Linked DNA regions of Homo sapiens: region 2 is linked to region 1. The links come from fine-mapping of genetic effects on gene expression. Tissue or cell type: spinal cord. Region 1 holds a variant in brackets; the other region holds the start of a gene. All regions are shown on one strand. Distances are between the middles of the regions.

Region 1 (4,410 bases):
TATACTCAGAGGAAATGGTGTATAAAAAGATATGGATTGTTGAGAGAGTACAGAGGGTGTGTGAAACTGAAATGAGGAATTAAACTGATATAAGAAATTGCCAAAGGAAGAGCATCTCTGAAGGTTTTATCACTTCTATGGAAAATATCATCAATATTACAAAAAGGTAAATAATTTTCAGAACTCTGAAAGTGTTTATTTTGATGATCTTGTACTTTCTTTAATTATCTTATATGATTCACTCGCCACACTCTGCCTATGTATTTTCTTTTTTTGCCAGAAAGCTTCGTGCTTAGTTCTGTTTTCAATTGTGGTAGCCTCTCTCAGACTGGTTTTTCTGATATAGTTATGTTATCTTTTTTTCTTCATTTCCTTCTTAGTTATTTGCTTTTAATTGCTGTTCTCTTGTTTTAAGTTGTCTCTTAGAAAATTATTTGTGTTTAACCTATGCCCTGGAAGAGTCCCTAATATGGAAGAGAGGCAAACACCACGACAAACTGCCTACTTTCCTATTCTGAGCAGGGCTGCCTTTGTATTGAGTTTGTTAATAGGTGTAGAAGATAGTTTTTGATGTTATTAGACATATGATTCAACTGCTTAGCCGTTTAATTAAAATGTTGAAGCTTAGATGTGAATGGCAAAAATGGAGACTGGTGACTTAAGCACAGAACAAACATTTACAATAATCAAAAGAATTTACTTTATTTCTTCCAGTGATTTAAAGTTTAAATAACCTTTTTATATTTCACATAAAGTGTGCAGGCTTAAAGTTTTAAGGAAGGTTTTTTTTTTTTAATTCTTATTTTCTCCCCTATTGATTCTAAAATTGGGAAAAACATACCACTCCTAAATTCCTGAACATTAATTATTTTTTTTAGATCTTTAGTCAGTCAATCTGTTAAACACTTTTTCTTTGCTTTCTTTTTTTAGAAAAAATCTCATTCCACTAAATGCATCTATATATTCCATACTCAATTCTTTTTGAAAGAAGACATAGCATAAATAAACAGAAAAATATTTATTAAGCACTCACCTTGCAGCAGACATTTTAATGGGAGTTGAGATTATAAAAATAAATGTTTATAGCCTGATAAATGAGAAAAATATTTCAAGCAAATTATTATGACATGGTGTGATAAGTGCAAAAGTAGAGGTCTCCTATGAGGGTTTTAAATTGTCTCTTAGAAAATAGAGAAGGAGACACTTGAACTGGCTCTTGATCAATAACAGGGCCTTTGCCAAGTAAATATCTGTGCTGAAGAGTGAGGATTGTGGTAAGAAAGGAATTGCATGTGCAAATGTATCAGACATTTAAAGAAGAGCTATTTGATCAGACTGGCTGGACTCTTAGATAAGGTCCTTTGTGATGGCAGAACCCAGAGTGAATGATTGCCAGAAAGATCTAGGAGCTGGGATCAAGGTCTCTTTAAAGTCTCTTTTTATCCTTTTATTTCCTATAGAACTTTGTAGAAATTAGGACTACTAAGACCTACAAATAACACAACCTTTATTACAAAATAAATGGGGTCCACAAGAAAACTTTTGCTTTCCTCCAGAGTTAAAATCCATATCTAGATGCCTGAGACATTTATCACTGTGGTGTACAGGCAACGCGGAAAGTTAGTGAGAATTGGGATGGGCTTCAATATGTAGGCTGAGACAACTGTAGTTCTTATTCTTTGATCTTTGTCTCTGGTCTTTGATGTAATAACAATTATCAAATAGCAGTTTGATGATGAATACTGCACGGTAATTTGGGATGTCTTATAATTTTTAAGATAGGGAACAGTCTGTACAGCAGTGCAGTGAAGTGATTTGCAGAGATGTGCCCTGATTAGTTTAGGGTATTGTTATTTAGCACTATTATTTTCTGTTTACTATTACCTGTAATCAAGACAATTAAATTATATACGTTTGAATGCCACAATTGCCCATATGCCATGGCTATGTTAGTTGGCAGCCAGAGAATTGAAGCATGGCCTATGTGTCCATACTCATTATTTTCATGACTGATTGTAGAGCATGCAGTTAGACTGACTGTGTCACCAGTCACTCCAATCTGTTATACCATAGTTGTTTTGTAAATTTGGATTTAACCCATTATGGAACAGAAATATGGCCAAGGTAAAGCTGTGTCCAAAAATGTAATCTTTATAGGTTGTCCATTTAGGCTATTACTTCTTACTTCTGTCCTTGTTATCCTATTACTTGTGCTATAAATATAAGGGCTCACGATTGCCACTGAATCCATACCATATGACCTTGGCTGCACATGAAAACAGATATAATTCTGTACAAGGAATAAATATTTTTTAAGGTTTCATGTAAAAATCTCAAGTCCAATTTTTTCATTGCCTCTATTAACAAACAGATGTATCCACAGAAAATATGTTAGCTTCCAAGGAATGATAAAAATCACTCTTAGGGAAGCAGCAAATCTTTTAAAGTAACCATGTAAAGGAAAATATCATTATTAATATATCCCTGAGAAAATAAATTTTCCATATTACCATTAGAGTATTCCTTTGCATTCATAATTTTTCAGACTGCCCATAAACTATAGAATAAAATCTAAACCTTGGCCAGGC[A/G]CAGTGGCTTACACCTGTAATCCCAGCACTTTGGAAGGCTGAGGCGGGTGAATACCTGAGGTCAGGAGTTCGAGACCAGCCTGACCAATATGGTGAAACCCTGCCTCTACTAAAAATACAAAAATTAGCTGGGCATGGTGGCATGCACCTATAGGCCCAGCTACTCAGGAGGCTGAGACAGGAGAATTGCTTGAACCGGGCAGCAGAGGTTGCAGTGAGCTGAGATCATGCTACTGCACTCCGGCCTGGGTGACACACCAAGACTTCATCTCAAAAAAAAAAAAAAAATCTAAACCTTTAGTATGATATCCTTTGTATCAGCCTACCAACTTCCTCTCCACTATTCTTCCCCATTAAATCTCTGCTCAGGTCTTATGTTTTTCTTGTTGTTCCCTGAAGATACCATGTGCTCTTGCCTTAGTACGTTTGCATTCAAACTTTCCTCCCTCCATTCTTAGCAAGCTTCTATTTACCTTTCCCCTCTTACTACTATTTTTGTTTGTAGTTACTGAGTGCTCACTATACTCAATCCCTTACATATATTACATTATTTAATTCTCACAGTAGCCCTATGACATAGGTATCCTGATTCATAGAGGTTAAGTAACTTACTCAAGATCATATAGATAGTAAAGTGACAGAGGTCAGATTTAAATCCAGAGTTTTCCAAGTCAAGGACAAGAACTTTTAATTTTTGTATATGCTGAGAAATGTGTATCCAGATGTATTCTTCTACATATGGCTATTGTATTAATCTGTTTTCACACTGCTATTAAGATACTATAATTTATAATTTATATAATTATATAATTAAATATAATTATAGAAATTATATATAATATATAATATATATAAATGCTGTTATATAATAATATATAAATATACATTTTATATATAAATATATATTTATGTGTATCCACAAAAAACATGTTAGCTTTATATAAATTTAATATAATTTATATATATTATATATATTTTATATATTATATATATAAATTATATGAAGATACTATAATTTATAAATTATAAACTTATAATTTATAAACAATTTATAGATAAAATAGGTAATTTATAAACAAAAGAGGCTTAATTGATTCACAGTTCTGCATGGCTGGGGAGGCCTCAGGAAACTTAAAATCATGGCAGAAAGTAGAGGGGAAGCAAACGCTTTCTTCGCAAGGCAACAGGAGAGACAGAGTGCGCAGGGGAAACTGCCGCTTTTAAAACCATCAGATCTCGTGAAAACTCCCTCACTATCACGAGTACAGCATGGGGGAAACCACCCCCATGGTCCAGTCACCTCCCACCAGGTCCCTCCCTTGATACAGTGGGGATTACGATTCAAGATGAGATTTGTGTGGGGACTGAGGAGAGTGAAAATCACCTGGTGACCACTGAAGAGGTCCTGGAGACAAAAACTTCTTATCTGAGGAATTTAGAAAGGAACAAAGACCACCTGTTTGCATCTAGTTCCAGGCCTCTTTCAACTTTTATGAGTAACTAAAATTTCTATACATCTCTGGAATGCCATGCCAAAACTCATTTTACAATCCTAAATTCCCTCCTTAAAGTCATAAATACCCCTAAGGAAAATCCACCACAGTGTGTTTAGTCCTCTTGCTGAGGCACCCCGCTGCACCCTTTTGGAGCGTTCTTTCTTTGTAATGAACTTTGCTTTTTCAAACCTATACTGTTGTTGGTAAATTCTTTTTACCAACCTGTGAGTCGACCACTTCCCAGTGCCAGGGCTCTGACACATCATCCAGCATCTTGGTGACCCATTATGTGGACTTTACTGGGATTTCTCCATTCTTTTTTCCCT
Region 2 (4,410 bases), 35 kb before region 1:
CCTCCTCTCATCCTTCCAGTAGAGTTCTATCACAATATTTTGCTAAATCAATTACTCTGTGTTTATGTTATTAATACTATAAAAATATTGTTCCCTGCAAAGCTAAATAAACCTGTGCTTATATACCTTTTATTATATATTTAATATTTTTTTCCTAAGATTAATAATTGCCTGGTTTGTTTATTGGTTCATTTTCTATGTATCTACTCTTAATTTTTAAATATGCTCTACTAAATCTGTTATACGCCTACTAATATAATTTTCAGGTATTCAAAACAAAGATATTTTGCCCATTTCATCTGGAAACCTATGCCCTCTTCATCCATTTGCTCTGATTTGAACTGGTTATTTTCTGAAGTCAGCTATGCAGTTGACATTCTGGATCTTGCCCTTGACCTTTCTTTCTCACACTATATCCAGTCTGCAGGCAAATATGCTGCCTTTACCTTCAAAATGTATCTGGAGTCTGATCCCATCTCTTTTTTTTTTCTTTTTTTTTTTTGAGATGGAGTCTCACTCTGTTGCCCAGGCTGGAATGCAGTGGTGCGATCTCAGCTCACTGCAACCTCTGCCTCCCAGGTTCAAGTGATTCTCCTGCCTCAGCCTCCCAAGTACCTAGGATTACAGACATGCACCACCACACCCGTTACAGAAATGCACACCTAATTTTTGTATTTTTAGTAGAGACAGGGTTTCCCCATGTTGGTCAGGCTAGTCTCAAACTCCCAACCTCAGATGAGCCACCACCTGGGCCTCCCAAAGTGCTGGGATTACAGGTGAGAGCCACCACACCCAGCCTGATCCCATCTTGACCTCCTCTGCTACCATCCTGCCCAAGCCACCATCATCTCTCTTAAACACTGAAATAGCCTGCTTAACTCTTCCACCCATTCCCCCTTTCAGCTAAAAATATAGCACAGATCATGTCTCATATATTTATTAGTTAAGTGCAAGTAACAAAAGGAACCATATGCCATTTGGGAAATGTTTGTTTCTTTTTCTAAGTGTGTATGTAGGGTAAGGGTTTCGGGCGAAAGTTGGTGGTGGTGGTGAACAGATTACGGGTATGGGAATTCTATATACATTCTCACTGATTGGCCTGTAGCAGATCAATGTTATGGAAAACAGAAAAAAATTTTAACATTTCCACAATAAGTACTTACTATGCATTGTGAGGTTAAAGAAGTAGAAGAAGATTCTTGCTTGTGAAAATTTACAAATTTCTGTAGGAGATAAAACATGTACATATTCCACACCGAAAGAACAAAACAATATTTGATTATATGTAGAAACTAGTATTATAGACTCCTTAGAAATTCAGAGAGAGAATGCAACATTTTGGCTGACTAATAATATATTAAAAGCAGGATTTGAGTTTGAATTTAAAATATGGGTGATATTAATATTTTACTTCCAGTGACTGCAAGGAGAATTTTGGACTGAGATAATGATGATGACATTAAAGGTATGCAACAGGAAGTTTTATTAGGGTTCTCCAGGTAAATGAAAAACAATAAGAAATGTAAATATTAATAGATTAGATAGAGAAGAGAGTTATTATAGGAATTGGCTCACATTACTTTGGAGACTGAGAAATTCCATGATACGCCATCTACAAGCTGGAAAGCCAGGGAAGCTGGTAGCATCGTTCAGTCCAAGTCCAAAGTCCTGAGAACTTCAGGCAGTAAGGGGATGCTGGATTAAGTCCCAGTGTTCAAAGATCAGAGAACCTGGAGTTTTGATGTGCCAGGGCAGGAGAAGATGAGTGTCTCAGCTCCAGAAGAGCGAGCAGATTCAGCTTTCTCTTGCCCTTTTGTTCTATCCAGGCCCTCAGCCAATTGGATGTTGCTTATCCATGGGGGAGGGTGGATCTTCCTTACTGAGTCCACTAATTCAAATGCCAATCTCTTCCAGAAACAGCTGCACAGACATACTTAGGAATAATGCTTTACCAGTTATTACCAGCTGGGTATCCCTTAACTCAGTCAAGCTGGCATCGAAAATTAACCATCACAGAAATCTACACCCAATTTAAAGAGAATGTGGACCAGGACAATTTGATATGTAAGATTTGTGCCAAGGAGTAGCTGAAAATAAGATGAAATGGATAGATAGGTTTTTATTCATGTTCAATATCTAGTAGATCAGTTCCGCTTATCTTATTGATTTAATTAACCTTTGATATATCATGGGCAATTATAATAGTTCTCAGCTAACCCAAGAAAATAGATTTATTATTACCTCCTTCTTATAGATGAGGAAACTTGAGGCCCAAGGACGTTAAATAACTTGCCTAAGGTCAAAAGACTAAGGATGTGGTGTAGTTAATATCTGAACCTATGCAATCTCATTTCTGAGCCTATGCTCTTAAACACTGCCTTTACTGGCTTTCCTTGTCTATCATATATGTTACAAATATCTTTTCAATTTCTCATTCATAATTTTAATTTTGTATATGGTCTTTCTTACTGGATGATATTTAAAATTTTATGTGAGGCCAGGTGCAGTGGCTCATGCCTATAATGCCAGAACTTTGAGAGACCGAGGCAGGAGGATCACTTAAGCCCAGGAGTTCAAAGTTGCAGTGATTCATTGGGGCCTGTCAGGAGGGGCGGGGTAGGGGGAGGGAGAGCATCAGGAAAAATAGCTAATGCGTGCTGGGCTTAATACCTAGGCAGTGGGTTGATAGGTACAGAAAACCACAATGGCACACATTTACCTACGTAACAAACCGGCACATCCTGCACATGTATCCTGGAACTTAAAATAAAATAACAGACAAACAAAAGTTGCAGTGACATGATTGTGCCACTGCACTCAAGCCTAGGCAGCAGAGCAAGACTCTGTCTCTAAAATAAATTAAAATTTAAAAAATCACAAAATTTTATGTAATCAAAGTTTCAATATTTTTCTTAATTTTATTTAGTTTTGTTTCATAAGAAAGGCTTAGTATAAAGAATAATAAAACATTTCCTATTATATTTTCTTTTGAATTTTTAACTTTTATTTTTAACTTTATGATAATTAATCATGAATCTTTTATTGTATTTGTCTATGGCCTGAAGTAGAGATCTAATTTTACTTTTCTTCCAAATGGCTAGCCAATTATCCTCAAAATATGTCCTTTTTTAAATGACTTGACATGCCACCTTGATACAGTAGATGTTTAGAAATTTGCCAGTTGCTGGACATTCTACCAATAAGTGTTTCATTCTGGTTAAGAAGAATTCTTTTAAAAGTGTAACCCTGGAAGGAATATTAGTTAGAAACACTGTAATGTAAATTAGTTAGATAATACTGGGTATCTATTGATACCCAGCTGAGATAAATGTAGCTAAAAATAGTAATTTTGGCTCTGGAGGTCAAATCTTCCTGGGGACAAGGAAGTTAAAAGTAGAAAAGTTAATTTTTAATGTGGCATGAATGAGAGAAACTATTGTCTTCTTCACAACTGTTGTCATTGACAAAAAGCTCTCGCATTTTTTGATGACAATTACTGAAGTATTATCTGGCACCAATTGAAATAATACGGACTTATAATATGGCTTTTTAGTAAGCAAATCACTCCAAATTTTTCTAATATTTTTCAGCTTTAAACCAATGAAAAAGCCATAAAAATAGCCACAAGGATAAATAGTCCAATGAAGGCTCTTTCTTTGTAAATGTGAAACTAAGATCGATTTTGGGAGAAAATGTCAAATCTTTTCATTTCCTCTGGGGACAGCATTATGCAGGTATGTTAGTAGTCTTTCTGTAGAGTATCAGGAAATCCATCTGCAAATAATGAATAATTTCCTCCCATTTCACTATGTGCATGCTCTGAACAATTAATGTCCTTACTTGCCTTCACAATGGTTCAGTGTGATCTAACACAGATTGAGCCATCTGTCTGTGTTTTCTTCCATTTGCAACATTTGTTCTTCCTGCTGATCTGACTGCTTCTTTTCTCTGCTTTCTGATTCAGATTGAGCAAGCTTTCCCAGAAATGTACTTGTTAGCCAGAAGCAAGTCTCTTGGACTACAGAAATGTAAAATATTCTCCTACTATATTCATCCTGTTAGTAATGTTTTTAAAAACCTTTTTTAAAAAAGTATATTGCCTGGAAAGCATACTAGGTTCTTACAGAATTTTTAACCTCTTGGCAAAATCAAATATATGTAAATCTAAAATCACGTTTGGAAGAAATAAATACAATTTTCTGTAAATGTGGTCCTAAGGATCATTAGTGTCTTGTTCTAGTGAAGTTCCAACATTCCTTCTTAAGAAGAGCATCTCAGTACATCCAACTGGAATCAGCTGGCTTCCTCTTGAAGTACATTCTTTTCATGTTCCCTCAGTGAAAGTCTTTTGGTGATAAATCCTGTTTTCAATTTTTTTTGGATAGTGTCTTTATTTTATTTTCCTTCTCA

Evidence for each region. PIP is the estimated chance that this variant, and not a neighbour inherited with it, causes the effect.
Region 2: it holds the start of LINC02821, and the variant in region 1 is the best candidate, but not a certain one, in a credible set for the expression of LINC02821 in spinal cord (GTEx, PIP 0.51).

What each region holds. Positions count from the first base shown.
Region 1 is chr12:70,142,574-70,146,983 of GRCh38, reverse strand. No RefSeq gene overlaps it. Among named protein-coding and RNA genes, the nearest start is that of LINC02821, 36 kb to the left of the region's middle. The variant A/G (reference allele first, on the strand shown) is at 2,589.
Region 2 is chr12:70,177,704-70,182,113 of GRCh38, reverse strand. LINC02821 (long intergenic non-protein coding RNA 2821) reads right to left here and starts at 1,787. Exons shown (of 3, transcript XR_945070.3): 1 at 1,576-1,787; 2 at 1,164-1,223.